Regions from separate parts of the Homo sapiens genome. Here region 1 is linked to region 2. Evidence: fine-mapped expression QTL. Tissue or cell type: lung. Region 2 holds a variant in brackets; the other region holds the start of a gene. All regions are shown on one strand. Distances are between the middles of the regions.

Evidence for each region. PIP is the estimated chance that this variant, and not a neighbour inherited with it, causes the effect.
Region 1: it holds the start of C8B, and the variant in region 2 is fine-mapped to the expression of C8B in lung (TOPMed, PIP above 0.99).

What each region holds. Positions count from the first base shown.
Region 1 is chr1:56,961,827-56,969,826 of GRCh38, reverse strand. It overlaps C8B (complement C8 beta chain), which reads left to right and starts at 3,812. Exons shown (of 12, transcript NM_000066.4): 1 at 3,812-3,970. The coding sequence starts at 3,879. LOC112267900 (a long non-coding RNA gene) reads right to left here and starts at 5,855. Exons shown (of 8, transcript XR_007066117.1): 1 at 5,770-5,855; 2 at 71-247.
Region 2 is chr1:56,906,299-56,914,298 of GRCh38, reverse strand. It overlaps C8A (complement C8 alpha chain), which reads right to left. Exons shown (of 11, transcript NM_000562.3): 8 at 7,507-7,632; 9 at 6,186-6,343; 10 at 1,674-1,896. Among named protein-coding and RNA genes, the nearest start is that of C8A, 56 kb to the right of the region's middle. The variant G/A (reference allele first, on the strand shown) is at 4,543.

The sequences.
Region 1 (8,000 bases), 56 kb before region 2:
TATTATTGCAGCAACAATAAACCACCAAATCCCAATAACATAGCACAACAAAAGTTGAATTCTAACTCACATGAAGTCCTTTATGGGTCAACATGGGCTCTCCTCCATCCAATGACTCAGGGGTTTAGGCTTCCTTCACCATAAGACATTGTTCTGTCAACACATGCTTCCAAATCCACAGGACAGAAGACAGAAATGGACAGGGCACACTGGCTCTTAAGTGCTTCAGCCCGAAAGTGTCACATGTCTGTAAGAAATTGCCGAATGTCCACGAATTCCTTCCAAAATTGTAGGCATACCCCTTTGCAATGTGACTCTGCTCTTCCTCCCATCAACAGGTATAAGCTCTGTCTCTAGCTCTTGAATGTGGGCTTGGCCATTGCTTCAGCCAAGGAGACATTAAGAAACATCAGGCAAGCAGAAGTTTGGAAAGCACTTGTGCACTGGGGCTTGTCTTTTCTTGCTGCTTTTTGAAACCATTAGATCACCCTGAGATCAAGCCTGAGTTAGTCTATTTGGAGTCATGTGGCCCATTTACTTCATCACTTCAGCCAACAGCCAGTGCTAACTGACAGACAGAATGAATCATCAGGCAGGTGAGTAAGGCCATCCTGGACCAACCAGGCTCCTGCTGACCTACCAGTTGGCTGAACCAAGGCAAGGCCAGCACCCATTTTAGCCTAGGCCTATTTGATGACCCAAGGAATTGTGAGCTGATAAATGATGATTGTTTTAGTCTACAATTTTGGGATTATTTGTTATGCAGCAAAAGCTAACTAATACAAAAATAGGTACCAGGAGTGGAGTGCTGCCATAGCAGAAACATGAAAAGTGGCATTGGCTGTGGAACTGGGTGGAGCCTGGAAAATCAGTCAATAAAAGTTGGAAAAACAACAAACTGTTAGTGGATCCGCAGACCTAGAGTTACAAATTCCTTCATATCGTTTAAAGGCCTAGAGACATATGATCAGTTTCAAAGCTCTCGCATGGTCAGAGATGAGATCTATAGCCCTGAGTAAGAGCAGCTAGACCAGAAGAGCAGTGTGGTGTGATAACTGTGAAGACTTAAAGCAGTGCTGGCACATCCTAAGGGCAAGGGGAAGCTTCAGAGCTAGAAAAAGGAGCATTTAGGAGTCAGAAAAAAAAGTGTATCAAGCCAAAGATGTCCTACTAACCAGCTGTGGAAACAGCTGTGAAGCCCCATCTTAGAGGCTTGGAAGATGATATTATGTTTCTTGGCTTATTGTCAAAATCAAACAAGATGATGTATGGGAAAACTGTTAAATTGTTAAGAACTGTCCCTGAAAAATATGTGTATTACTATCACTAAAGCCTGAGGCTGCCGTCCTCCAGGCGGGATCTCAGGTGAGCTGCACTGGGAAACCACCAGGGGGCGCGATGAGGTTGGAACTCCGGGAGACCTGGGGGCGCCTGGAGCGTTAAGAACCCCAGGGGAATCTATTGGGAAGGCTTTCTTGAGCAAGTGACATTAATATAAAACTCGAATAATGAGTCGTATTTAGCTAAGTGGCACATACTCTGGACAGAAGGAACGGCATGCAAAAATCCTGGAGGTGAGAGAGCACAGGATTCACTCGTGTAACTGTCCTCTCTAAACCTGCAGGCTCCTCCGTGAGTACATCAGGTTGAGGAGGTCGAAGGGGAGCCCTGTCTTCTAAGGGTTTGGCTTCTCTTAAAGGCAGGCAGATAGGAGACAGGACATGGATCTTTCTTGAAACACAAGTTTCTGCTTGTTTACAAATGATTAACCACCACAATCAATTGCGTCAAAGTTCAGGTCAATTCATCCTTTGGGACAACGGTGACATGGAGTCTTGCACCTAGGCTTATGACAACTGGAATGCATCCTGGGTGGTCTGGCAGCAGAACTTGTGTTCTGTGTTTTGGACACAATTAATGTGAGAGGACTACCATCTTCTGTGGCTTTCCCATCCATCCCCTCACTATACTTCCTTATTTGATTCTCCAACCCCAACCCAGCTACTCGGCAGGGGTGGCAGGAGGGGGAGGCTTCCCGTTTTGTACGTTCAAACCCAAAACAAACTTATCAAGTAGGTAGTAATGAATTATTATCCCTATTTCACAGATGAGAAAACAGAGTCTTAGAGAAACTCTGTAACTGTGTTTAAGGAAAGCAAATCCAGTGTTCTTTCTACTAGCCCACCCTCATACCTTGCAAGCTGCCTCTCCCATGTGAGGTTCCTCACCCACATCTGCAATAGCAAAAGCAACAGGACGCCATCCAACACGTGGACTCAGCCCTTTATGCGTTGCAGGTTGGTTTTGTAAATGCCAGGTTGGTGCAGTTTGGACTTTAATATGTTGATTCTGGGGAGTCAGGGATGGTTTTCAGGAAGGTAGGTTTGAGAACCTCAGTCATTTGTATCTTTTGGGATGCAAACAATAACAACAACAGCACATATATATTTAGATAATTATTTTCATGTAGTTATTTCCTGGGTTTTTTTTGTTTTGTTTTGTTTTGTTTTATTTTGAGACGGAGTCTCGCTCTGTCACCCAGGCTGGAGTGCAGTGGCGCGATCTCGGCTCACTGCAAGCTCTGCCTCCCAGGTTCACGCCATTCTCCTGCCTCAGCCTCCCGAGTAGCTGGGACTACAGGCGCCCAACACCATGCCTGGCTAATTTTTTTTGTATTTTTGGTAGAGACGGGGTTTCACCATGTTAGCCAGGATGGTCTCGATTTCCTGACCTCGTGGTCCGCCCGCCGCGGCCTCCCAAAGTGTCATGTAGTTATTTCTATAATGCCTATTTGTTCAACAATTACACATTTAGTATTTGGTCTGACTCTCCCAACTGTGAGTGGTAAGTTGTCATAGTCCTCCTAATTTTACATATGAAGAAACAGAATCAGAGACAGTCAATAAAAATACCAGCTCACTTATAGAGAGTGCACATAGAATGTGCCAGGCAATGTTCAACATGTTTTGAACATGTTGTGAAGATTAAATAAATCTAATTTATTTAATAATAATAATTATAATTAATTATAATTACAATAATAATTAATAATAATCTAATTTATTTAATCTTCACAACAACCCGGTGAGGTTGGTATTATTATTATCCCTGTTTTATTGATGAAGGAACTTAGGCCCAGAGAGGGTTAGTAATTTTCTCTGGCCACACAGCTGGTGAATCATACAGAAGCAATTTGAAGTCAGGTAGATGGGTTCTAGAGCCCTACAGCCTCTTACTGACTTGCTCAACATCATGTAACTGGAAAGAGGCAAACATGGAATTCAAACCTTGGCCTGTCTGACTCCAAACCCTGAATTCTACTAAGTAATAATAGCTGACATATCTGAGCGCTGAACATAGGCCTGTTCTAAACATTTCCTTATATTAACGTGTTTAATTCTCACCACTTAGCAAGTAAGGAGAGTAAGGCACAGAAGTAAAGCAACTTGCCCATAGTCCAAAGCTGTTAGGTTGGTGCAAAAGTAATTGTGGTTTTTGCCATTAAAAGCAATGACAAAAACTGCAATTACTTTTGCACCAACCTAGTCAGTGGCAGAGAATGTACTTGAACCCAGGCTGTCTAGACCTAGATCCCACAGTCCTTGCCACCTCACTAATAGCCTGTCCACTTGGCAGCTTACCCTAAAGTTACAGAGGAATAAACACCATGCTGCTACAGATTTTTCATTATTCTGGTTGGTTTCCAGAGTGACAGGTAAGTTTTTGGTCTGTGCAAAGTCTGTTTCCAGTCACTAGTGGCTTTCTGTTTACTTTGCAGAGCTATTTGCTCTTGGGGACAGAAGCTGACAGTGGCACTCACAGCACAGGCTTGTTATGGGTCTAGCAGCCTCTGTGGCATCTCCTGTCACATTGGGAAAATGAAGAATTCCAGGACATGGGCTTGGAGGGCGCCGGTGGAGCTATTTCTTCTCTGTGCTGCCCTGGGCTGTCTCAGTTTGCCTGGCTCCAGGTAAGTGACAGTTACCAATAATTCCCTGATCAATAATATGACAGGGAAGGTGCAGCCACATGATGCTGACCATCTCTTTGTTGCATGCCTATTGAATGAGGAACGTCTCTTAAGGCAATTTGCATGCATCTGATAACATACTATCAACAACTCTTTTCAAATTATTGTGGAACCAAGTAGCTGATTTCAACAAAAGTTCCTGTAAGAAACTGACAGGTTTAAATGTATTTTGTCATGCTGAGAAGAATAGGATATTTTTTCTGTATTCTGAACAAAGCCTCCGTGTGATTCTTTATGAAAAAGAAAGTTTGTTACATACAGAGGACAAAAGAGCAAATTCATGAAATGATTTTAATAAATGAGATTGACCTACTCTACCTGCTCATCAACCCCAAATCTTCAGATTCTCAGGTTCTTTCCCACCCCCTTCTTACACACACACACACACACACACACACTCTCTCTCTCTCTCTCTCTCACCCCCCACAAGGTTCCCAGCAGTTAAATGCTGGCTGATTTATTTCATCATTGTTAGTCTCCATTAACAAGGTGCAAAACAAGCTAAAGAAAATATCCTAGTGGGAGCTCAAACTTGGGCTCCAGTGATAGAAGAGCCAGTGACGTAGCAATGTGGGGATGCTCCGTGTGCATGAGAAACCCCTGCCATGAGATGTTGAAGTGTGCATGTGTCCCCGGCCTCCATGTAAACACTCCTGTGGGAAGAGGGACTGTAATTCCATTCCTTTTACTTAGTCCAAAAATGAGATCTGAACAAACCTTTCACTTTATGTGAGGAGTACCTCCTACCCATGGGACACAGCCTCTGGTCTCAGTTCTGTTGAGCTGCCATTAGGAACCACAGGATGATGAGCATTCGTTCACTATCTATTGGCCACTCAATAAGTAACAGCTATTAGGATGATCAAGAAACTCCATTTAGCCCAGAGAATAACTAAGCTGCCAAGACCTTCCTTGTGTGTACTGTGTGTACACAGAGAAGCATTCAGGACCCAAGAAAATGTCTCCGGAATGGAGGACTTAAGGGAACCATAGCAACCCTATCTATAGCATTGTGCCCCTGGGTGGAGCTTTCTGTTGGGCTCTGAGGATACAGAGATGAGCCTATGTTCTCACAAAGAATGCCAACATGTGAGCATATGCTATGTGTACCGTTACAAAAGATGCTACGGGGCAGCCAGGAAACAAGGAGGGAATGATCAGCTCTACAGGGCATAGGGCCTGGAAAGGCTTCTAGAACAGAGAGTGTGAGGGCTGAATCTCTACAGGTGCGTGGGTGTTTGCCGAATGGCTAAGGGGTTGAAAGGTGTGCCAGGTAGAGGGAGCAGCACAGGCAACGGTGCGTGAGTGTGAGAGAGCTGGCTTGCTCCTGAAGCTTCCAGACACCTCAGTGGGCCTTGAACACAGGTCCCGGCAGGAAGTTGAGAGGGATGAGATAGAGTAGGAGTGAACAGGCATCATGTCATGGGCAGAGTTGGGGGATGCTGGAGTACCAGCTAAGGAACTTGAACTATATCCTCACCACAATGCATTGGGAAGCCATTGAAGAGTTGAAGCAAAGGAGTGACACGATCAAATATATATATTAGGAAGTTCACTCTGAGGTAGGGAGTGGAGGGGCAAATTGTTGATTAGAGTGCAGTCTGAGAAATTGTATTTAATTGTCACTACAACATCATGAGGTGGGTGTAATCTCTCCTTCTCGCTATGTAAGAGAACAAACTGATCCTCAGTGACAAGAAAAGATTCACGCATGTGTGGTGAGGTTTTCAAACCCTTACCTGAATCTGGGTATAGTTCTGACATCCACCTATAATCCCCATGGGGCTGTCTTGAACACGACAGGTATTTGAATTCCATCTGCGAGTAGAAGAATAGTCTTTGGTTCTGGAACAGAAAATGCTGAGACCACCTTCGTATTGGCCAAAAGAGTTTTTTGTTCTTACTTACTCTTGTAATCAAGTCAGATGATGAAATCACAATCACTGTGTCGTAAGACCTATTATGTATTGCCACTCTGTGCCAGCAACTTGGAAACATTAGCTATAATCCTCACAGCTATTCCAGGTAAGTGCTACTGTTTACAGTTTCACAGAGAGGGAAACAGAAAACATAAGTGTCCCAAGGCTATCCACTTAACAAACAGCTAACTATGGATTCAAATCCAGTTTCATTCAGGTCTCAGAGTCCCTGCACTCTCTCTGCATCCTTCTGCTTCTCACTAATGCGTTGTCCCCTCCCCACCCCCCACCACCCCCCAACCTCCACATTGTGTATCTGACTTGTTGGCCTCTGTGCTGTTTCTCCATCTCTGGGCCACACATTTGTTGCCTTGAGATGTTGCTTTAAATTTCATGTCTACCACAGCAAACGACAGAGAGAAGAGAAATTGAAAACCTGCCACCTAGAAGCTGCCCCTTCTAGCAAAGAAAAAGGATGCTGTTTGCAAAGGGGATGCAGCTGCTTAACAAATTGTGTGTGACAAGAAAGTTGTTGTGTCAGGGCATTTCTACCGAAAGCCAAAATATATTGACGCACCCCATCTATATAAGCTGATGGCTTGCAATTTACTGCTGACCCAATCCTGCTGTACTGGATGGATCCATCTTTATTTTGATCAGAGACGCCTGTTAGGAAAAGAGTGGGAGACCTGGGCCCAGTTAAATGTGTCCTAATGCTGGCTACAGCATTTTCTGCATCCCCAGGAAAGACACCTCCTTGCCAGTCCTTAAGTAGAGGGGGCACATGTTCAAGGAGCTGAGCAAGGGCGTTTACTGTAGCTCTATTTGCAATCGCAAAACATTGGGAAAATATAAATGTCCCTCAAAAAGAGAAGGAATAAATTAAATGCAATGTGTGTCATATGATAGAACATCCAGACAAAAGAAATGAACTAGATCTCTTTATGAATCAACATGGATAACTTCAGAAATGCAATGTTGATTAACAAAAGTGAGTTGCAGAATCATATGTGTAAGTATGAATAAAGCACACACAAGCAATACTATAGATAGTGTATAGACATCAAATTATCTAAAAGAGACTGGAAGGAAACACACCAAATTCATGGCAATAGCCCCTCTGGGGGTAAGGTGGGGGGAGCAAAATCGAGGCTGCTGTAAAATGCAGATGTCAAAATTAAAAATTTACAAAAAGACTTGAAGCAAGTGTACCAAAGTGTGAACAACTGCCAATCTGGATGTGAGTACATGGGTGTTTATTATATTATTTCTTGTACTTCTCTAGGCATGCTTAATTTTTCAATGTTAAAAGCATACAGAGGATTTTTAATGACAGAAGTTTAGTCAGTTGGTCAAAATGTCCATCAGGTTTGTTTCTATAGAAATCCATAGGGGTGAAAGGCTCATGTTGTTCCCACACACAGAGGCCCTGAGGGAACCTAGAATTTATGTGGCTCCTCGTTAGTCCCAGGAACTAAAGATGCTGTTTAATCCTAGCCTTTCTTTCAGATTTGCATTTTATAGTACTAATAAACCACACACATCTCATCCGATGTAATTTACAAACATACTATTTATTCAGCTGGTTACTTCATTATATTGCCACCTTCCATAATGAAAATTGGGTGCAAAAATGAGAGATGTGGTGGATATAACTACTTTTTACCAAGTTCTTTCCGTAAGTGATCATCTTGCCCATTAACAGGCTTTCAAATCTCAGAGACGAAAATAATTGTGACTCTTAATAGCTAGTGTGTACATTACTTACCTGCTCAGTCTCACCTATGGCCCTGGAGTTGTCTTGGTTGCTAAAAACATAATGTAACAGTTTTGTAGTTGAAATAGGAAGAGGGTACCCTGCAGAGCTGTCAAATACATACTTAGGAGAAGCCAAATCACAGACAATATTGTTTTGTCAAACCTGGGCAAATTAGTAGATAAGAACACACTCTGAAGCCCCCCACTGGTGTGTAGCATCCTGCCTCAAGTAACCGTTTTAAAGTATCCACCTGTGGTTTCCAGTAGTCTTTGACCTTTCATTAAAGATCCAG
Region 2 (8,000 bases):
CCCTCATTCTTGCTGCAGTACATGCAGAAGAAAGTCCTCCCTCATTAAGCCCTAATCCCTTTGCTATAGCTTCTCTCCTTTAGTCCTACAACCTAATCTCAGTGGCCATAGAATACAAGTTCCATGTCCTCCCACATGGCAGTTTATGTGGGACTTGTCCTTTCTGAGTCTTTCTTCTTCATGCCTAAAATTCCCAATCTTTCCAGATCTTCTTAATACATAGGTTTGAGCCTTCCCACTTCTCTGGATTGCCTGCTTTGCTTTGTCAGTATCCGGTGAGGTGTGGCACCAAGAACAAAAATCTTGGTACGCCAGAGAAGAATCTTATCCTGAGCTCTTGACTTTTGTTAACCCGTCTTTCACTGTGGGGCCGTCTGTATCAGGCTCCCACTGAGTGAACTGGGACTAATGGTTGGCCTGTTTCTTTCACATGGCCATTGAGCCACATGGCTTCAGCCCCCTCCACCCTGTGCTTCAACCCTTTGTTTTCTGGAGTCAATTGTAATACCTTGGATTTCCCATCCAGACTTCTTTGTTTTTCCCTTTGTGTTTTCTTCATTGCAATAGCCAATTTAGGTTAATGTGTACATTGATTAGGTAGTCCATACATTTTGCCATCATTTTATGTACCATACAAACAGTTTTATGTGCCTGAAAAAGTGGGAGCTTAGGAATTGGAACATGCATACTCTTGGGGCTAAAAGGGAACATAGATGAGAAAGCTAAGCCCCAGAAAGATGTGAACAATTAGTGTCTCACAGTGACTTAGTAAAGTATCTGGGATTCACATCCAAGTCCCCAGACTTCTTCATTTTTAAGCAATGGACTTTTAATGCTTGTTTGATAACTTTCTTCCCTGGTACCAGTTGGTTCATGTTGCAGTTATCTGCATTTAAACCTTCCTTGCCCAAACCTTGTTTTTAGTCATAACTTCTTACACTATAATGACAACTACCTATCTCTTTTAGTGAGTTTAATTGTGTTTCCTCAAAAGATATGTTCAAGGCAAACCCTTGTTACCTGTGAACATGACCTTATTTGGAAATAGGATCTTTGCAGATGAAATCACATTAAAATGAGGTCATGCTGGATTAGGGTGGTCTCAAACCCAGTGACTGGTGGTTCTTATAAGAAGAGAAACAGAGTTATAGAGGGAAGAATGCCACACGAAGACAGAGGCAGAGACTGGAGCGATGCATCTATAAGCCGAGAAATGCCAAGGATTGCTGACAACTACCAAAAGATAGGAGAGGGACTTGAACCACATACTCCCCCAGTCTCTGGCAGGAACCAACCTAGCCAACACACCTGACTTTGGACTTCTAGCTTCCAGAGGTCTGAAACAATACACTTCTGTTGTTATAAGCCACCTAATTTGTGATGATTTGTTATGGTAGCCCTAGGAAACTAGTTTATTCCTCCAGAAATGAATCCTGTTGTCCATATACATCTTGGCGAAAAACAGTTCTCATCTGAGAAAAGGTCTTGATGGCAAGGACAAAGCACAAGAACCACTAAATGTGATGGGTGAGTAACAGAACTCTCAAGGGTGGCTCCTAGGTATTGGCTAGGAGAGCTCCAAAAGGAGGGGCCGGGAACCCCAAAAGTCCTTTTTGCACTGGCCCCTTTGAGCTGGGACAGGCTGGAACTGGGTGGGGATGCACGGACCTTACCTTCTGTCTGTGTTTGCTCACAGGCAGCACCCAAGCTACCCAGGCGGCACTGGCACCTGCAGCTGGTGCCCTCGAGGATGGGCACCCCATTGTTGAAGCAAGGCCCACATCGGCAGGCATTGAATTCCATCAGATACTGGTCCAAGGCGCGGCGCAGGTTCTGGCGCTTGGCCTCCAGAGGCCCCAGGCTTGTGTGCCGCAGCACCTCGTGGATAGGCTGCATCTGTGGGCACAGAAAGAACACAGGGCCCCTCCCTGGGCTCTATCTACCTTCCCAGAGCCCAAGAACCGGCCACCAAGCTTCTGGAAGGCCTGATACATGCCAGGCACAGACACAGACACCCAATTTATCCCACCACCTTGGATCCTCACAGCCATTCTGTGACATAGGTATTAAACTCCTCAGCTCCTAGCAGAAGAAAGGGAGGCTCAGTGTTTAAGTGACTGGCTCAGAAGCACACAATTATTAAGAAATAATAATGAAGATCGGGTTTAGAGAGGGGCAGTTAAAAGTCCCAGCCCACACAGCTAGGACGTGAGGCACATTTACTTAGCTTTTACCATATGACAGGCCTTTCCCCTATATCATCTCCCTTAATCCTCACAGTGATCCTGGAGCAATGTGTGCATTCCTCACAAGAATCACCTACTTAACTCTGAAACCTGTGCACTCCCAATCCCAAGTGGGCTTAGAAGTTATTTGTGCCAACTCATCTGCCCTCTCCACCACATTTAGGAAGCAGGAAAAGTGTGTGTTTTAAATGTCAGCCTTCAATGCAGGAATTAATAAAATCCTTGACAGGTAGTGTTGTTGTCATTGCTGAGCAATTTCCCTAATGGTGTAACTGTGGCAGCTACATGTGGCTGGGTGGGAGTTATTTACAACTGATGCAACCCATTCCAGACATGACCGTAGTTCAGGGTTTTTCAACTTCGGCACTATTGCGTATCAAGTTGGATAATTCTTTACTGGCAGGAGTGGGCTGTCCTTGTATTGTAGGCTGTTTAGCAGAGTCTCTGGCCTCTACCCACTACATGCCAGCAGCCCCCTTCCAGTTGTGAAAACCAAGACTGTCTCCTGACATTGCCAAATATTCCTTGGGGGAAACAATTGCCTCGACTGAGAAGTAGTAGATGAAGCACAAGGAGGATTGAATCTGGAGCCGGAAAACCTGGCTTCAAACCCCAGCTACCCTGCTTCCGACTGTGTGATCTTTGGCACATGACACACGGAGCCTCCTTCCTCATCTGTAAAGGGAGAACAGTCATCACACCCTCCAGGATTATTGTGAGGATTAAGGGAGATGATATAGGGGAAAGACCTGTCACATGGTAAAACTAAGTAAATGTGACTCACTTTCTAGCTATGTGGCCTAACTGCCCCTGTCTAAGTCTGATCCTCATTATCTAGAAAATGGGAATAATACTTAATTCCCAGATTTCTTATGAGGATCTAAAGAAGTACTGAATGTGAGATACTACTGTACAAGGGAAGAATGACAAAAAATAAAGCACCATTTTTGTTAGTTGTATGTGATAATAGTAAAAAAAAAAAAAAAACCCATGTTTTTCAAATTGCATGCATATGTGGTTATCTTCAGCATGCTTATAATGTTATACATGTTAATACTTCATAAAAGGAAGGCACTTCTCCAGATCTCTCATTTTAAGGAGAGGAACCTGAGGCCCCCAAAGGGGAAGTGATTTGCCAAGGTCACAGAGCAAGTCAGCAGTAGGACTGTGCCAGAGCAAGTCAGCAGTAGGACTGAGCCACATTACGGTAGTCGCACTTCCCTGGAAACAGAAGTCAACTGAGGGCACTGGCAATAGCTTTGTCTGAGTTCCTGGAAATGTGTACAGAAAGACCTGTGGCAAACAGACTTTGGCCTGTGGTCAGGGGTTGCGGTTGAGGTCAGCAGGCAGGTAATATCAGGACTGGTAGGGTCCCCAGCCAAGGGGAGAAAACCACTTACTGGAAGTTCAGAGAATTCAGTCCCATTGTTAGGAAGTCAGCGTAGAATAGGCTGCCCTGTTGGCCTTCTCAAAGATGACTGTTAGTTCCAGGGAAAGCCAGGACCATTGAGCAATTTCTCTTTGACTTTCCAGTGGGGCTCTGCATCCAGTTCCCCACCTCAGATCTCTCCCTCCCAGGAACCACAGGAAGAGGGGAAGCCCTCCATAGGGTGGACTGGTGGAGTTAAAAGAGGAGAGAGAGGTGGAGAAGAGGGATCTTGGGACGTTAGAGCTTGAAAAGGTATTGGCAGTGATCTTGTTCCCGTTTTGCAGATGAGAAAAAAGACTCAGAGGTCAAATGATACAATATAGCAACACAAGATAATGCATAATAATATATCACACAACACAACATAACAAAATAACATAACACAAACGTAACATAGCAGGACTCCTACATTCACAAACTCTAAGCACTTGCTATAAATAAGCACTGCTGAACTCTGGGGTATATGCAAGTGAATAACATGCTGTTTCCACTCTGAACATCAGGCTCCAAATAACCCCTACCTGGTCCCCTTGTCTGTAATCTCTCTCTTCTTCAAATCACCCTTTATTTCCCTGTGAGCATTCTCTTTTTAAAACACAGTGCTAGCTGTGTTACTTCCCTGCTATAAAGCCTGCCCGTGGCTTAATGCATTGAGTCCGAACTTCTCAGGGGGCAACATGAGTTGTGAAGAGACTGAGGATGTTAGTGTCAGTCAAACATGACTCGAGTTGGACTCTATCATTTGCCAATTTCGAGATATTGTGCTGAACCTGTTTCTTCAACTGACATTTACCAAGTAACTTCTGATCTCCTGAGTCTTGTGAAATATCTCTATGTGATAGAGCAGGAAACTGAGGCTCAGTGAGG[G/A]AAGTAACTTGTCAAAGGTCACACATTGAAAAAGCAGCTGAGCTATGACCTAAATTATGTCTTTCTCCTCCCTCTCACCCAATCCTGCCAAAGCCTGGGCTCTTTCCCAAAAGACTGTAGTGGTCTTCTCCAAATGATGACCCTGAGTCTTCCCAGGGAAGTTTTTCTCAAGGCAAACACCAAGTTCACCTCTTGCCTATGAAAGTTTATGTATTACTCCTGATATCAATTTTACAGTTTTTGCTCAAATCACTAATAGCTTGATGATATCAATTTTCAAACCTTATGTGAATTACAGTTGCATGAAAATGGTCTCTTACTTATTGAAGAAGAAATAAAATCAAGGTTGATCCATCTGACCTGTTTCTTCACAGAAACCAGGGTGTTAGAATAGACTTCTAGGTTTAACTGTAGGCATATGTTTTAAGAGGAGGACTATATCCATATCTGGGATTTTAAATATATGTAGAAAAATAGGCAAGGGTGGGGAGAAAATGGATGAGAAAATGATGATCTTTTGCTTCAAAGTCTGAAATGCAGTCTCTTAAATGGACTACACCACATATGGACAGAAATAGTTTGGCAACTGCTAGAACAATCACTTCCTTTGTGGTTAAAATAGAATTTTTCACACTTTGTGAGGTTAAGCATTTAAGGCAGGGTTTCTCAATTTTGGCAGTATTGACACTTGAGGCCAGATATTTCTTTGCTGTGGGGTCTGTTCTGTGCATGGAAGGATGTTTAGCAGCATCCCAGGCCTCTGCCTCCTGGATGCCAGTAACACCTCCTTGCCCCACTGTGGGTGGTGACAAAAATATCAAAAACATCTCCAGACATTTCCATATTTCCTCTGTGGAGGAAAACTGCCCCTAGTAGCTGAGAGCCACTGCTTTAATGGAGGTGCTAGGATAGAGAGAAGTGAGAACTGGATACGAAGTCCAAAGGTCTGAAATCCAAGCATTGCCACCTCTGAGCTATATGACCTCAAATATTTTCACTTGATTTTTCAGAGCCTGTTTCCTAATCTTTTTAATGGGAGGGAATAGTATCTATGACAGAGGTTCCTCTAATGGAGAGATGAGATAACTGTGGAGGATGGTAGCAAATTGCAGCCTGGGTCCAAGTCCAACCCACAGCTTATTTTTGTATGGCCTTTGAGCCAGGAATGACTTTTATATTTTTAAAGAGATTTGATGAAGAAGAGAAAGAAGAAGAACTAATACTACTACTTTGTGTATTATAGATTGTATGTGTCCCACAAAGCCTGAAATATTTACTATCTGACCTTTTACAGAAAAAGTTTGCCACCCCCTAATTTAGCCCATGTGATTTTTGAAGTGTTTTATGTATAAATAAAAATCATGATTTGCCTAATGTGACCTAATGCTGAGGAACTTCTGGGATGAGCAGTGTAAAACTAGGCACTGACTAGATCATCAGTTTCTGATCCCAGCTGTCCCGTGGCCTGGGTCTGAAGTCATGCACTCCCTGGAGTCAGGCACAAGCAAGGCCACTAGTTCAGTGTGCCATTACATTTAATCTTGTTCTTTGATGGGCTCATAATAAGAAATATGAAATGATCTGGTCTGCTTCACTTTCATTCCTCATGGACGTAGAGTTTCTTCAACTGCGAAAAGACTTACCTCAAAATCGATAACAACAGGATTATACTTTAATGACCTCCCCCAGGAACGGTATGTAATGGTGCTCCTGTTCTGTGCCAAGCCACCGCTCCAGCCAGAACTGCCACCTCGCACCCGAGAAATAATGTCTTCCACAGCCATGGCCTTCCTGGCCCTTTCTGCCATCAAGAGGATAAACTGCATTAACTCATTTCCCAAAAAGCCCAAGGACTGGTTGACAAACCCCACTAATGAGATTTGGAAGAAAGTTTACATGTTTTCCTTAGATGTTTACCATTCTTCTTCTCTTCTTGGTTAGCTAGCAGGACAAGGCAGAAGGGAAGGACCAAGACTCAGAAATAGACCCATCCTCTGGAGTGGAGAAATACTGAGAGGACAGCCCAGACCACATGGAGGATAAGGGGAACAGGAAATGGGTGGTCATTCATTTATTCATTCATTCACTCATTCATTCTTACATCAAATATTTACTCAGTGCCTGCTATATGCCGAATAGGTTCAATCAAATATTATAGGTGCTATAGGTACAACAGATGTTACTATAGGACTCAATGTGGGCACAGTGAAAGAAACTAGTTAGCTATACAGTAGGGGGTGTGGGAGGCAGTCAGAAAGAAAGGTGAGTTGTCTACAAAGGTTAGTGAATATTTGCCAGGTAAATGAAGAGAGGATAGAAAGAGAGAAGAAACAATTTGACTTAAGGCCCTGAGGTACAGGTAACCTAATGCAATAGGAATAGCTTGAACCTGATTAATATCTATTCCACCCACTGCATTATAAACTTCTTCATCATCCCTGTATCCTCTGTGTCTCCCACTTGGGGAAAAAAACTCAATACCTGTTTGATGAATGGATGAGTAAATGAACACATGAACACCCCAACTGACTTGTTCAGGAAATGCCATAAAATATTCCTGTACAATCCCTCTCTAATAATTATTCTTTGAGCTTGGACTCGGTACCATATTCTCTCTCAACAGCCTTATTTCCTCCCTCTGAACTGTAATATGATGGGTCTTCATTCAAACAGCCCATTTTCCAGATTCCTTTCATTCTAGTTCTTACTTGGACCTTTGTCTAACCCTTGAAATCTAGGAGGGTGCCCCGTATAAAGGTAGGTATTTCTAAGGTGATTTTAAGCCCATGGTAGATTCAAAATAAAGCCACTGCAGGTCATTGTTTTGGGGTATTTAGCGTCTATGCAGTCTGATCATTGACTAAAATGCAATCAACTGGGAAAAAAAATAGCTTCCATGTCCCAGTGTGTGTCCAAAGGAAAGCCTGGCTTCTCTTTTTGGGAGATCTATTACTAAACACTTGCCAGTTTTGCCACCTCCAAATTTTTTACAATGGTCTCCTGATAAACCTCCACCAACATTTATTTTGTCTTCATATTGAATGCCCAAGGAGCCTCCAAAACATGTCGTGATATCTCTGCTGGTAATACCTGCAACAGGGAGACAGAGAAACACAAAATGCTGAGTTATTAAAAGACACTTGACATGGTACAACTATGTCAGAGTAGTAAAAGCTAGCTTCAGCTTTGGAGTCCAAAAGGCCTGGGTTGAAAGCCCGGTTCTTTAATCCAATTTCAGTTTTCTCTTCTGCATGGTTCCAACCAAAATAATTCTTGAAATGAGAAGAGATATGTGTTGCACATACTAGTTGGTAAAAAATGCTAGCACTCTTTCCTTTGACCATTCTTTATTGAGCCACCTTGAGGCAATAATTCTATCTCATCCTTCTGCATTTGCCCCCATGCCTACCTCAGTGCCCGGGCCATGATAGGCACCATTACCCTGAACTTTTGCACAT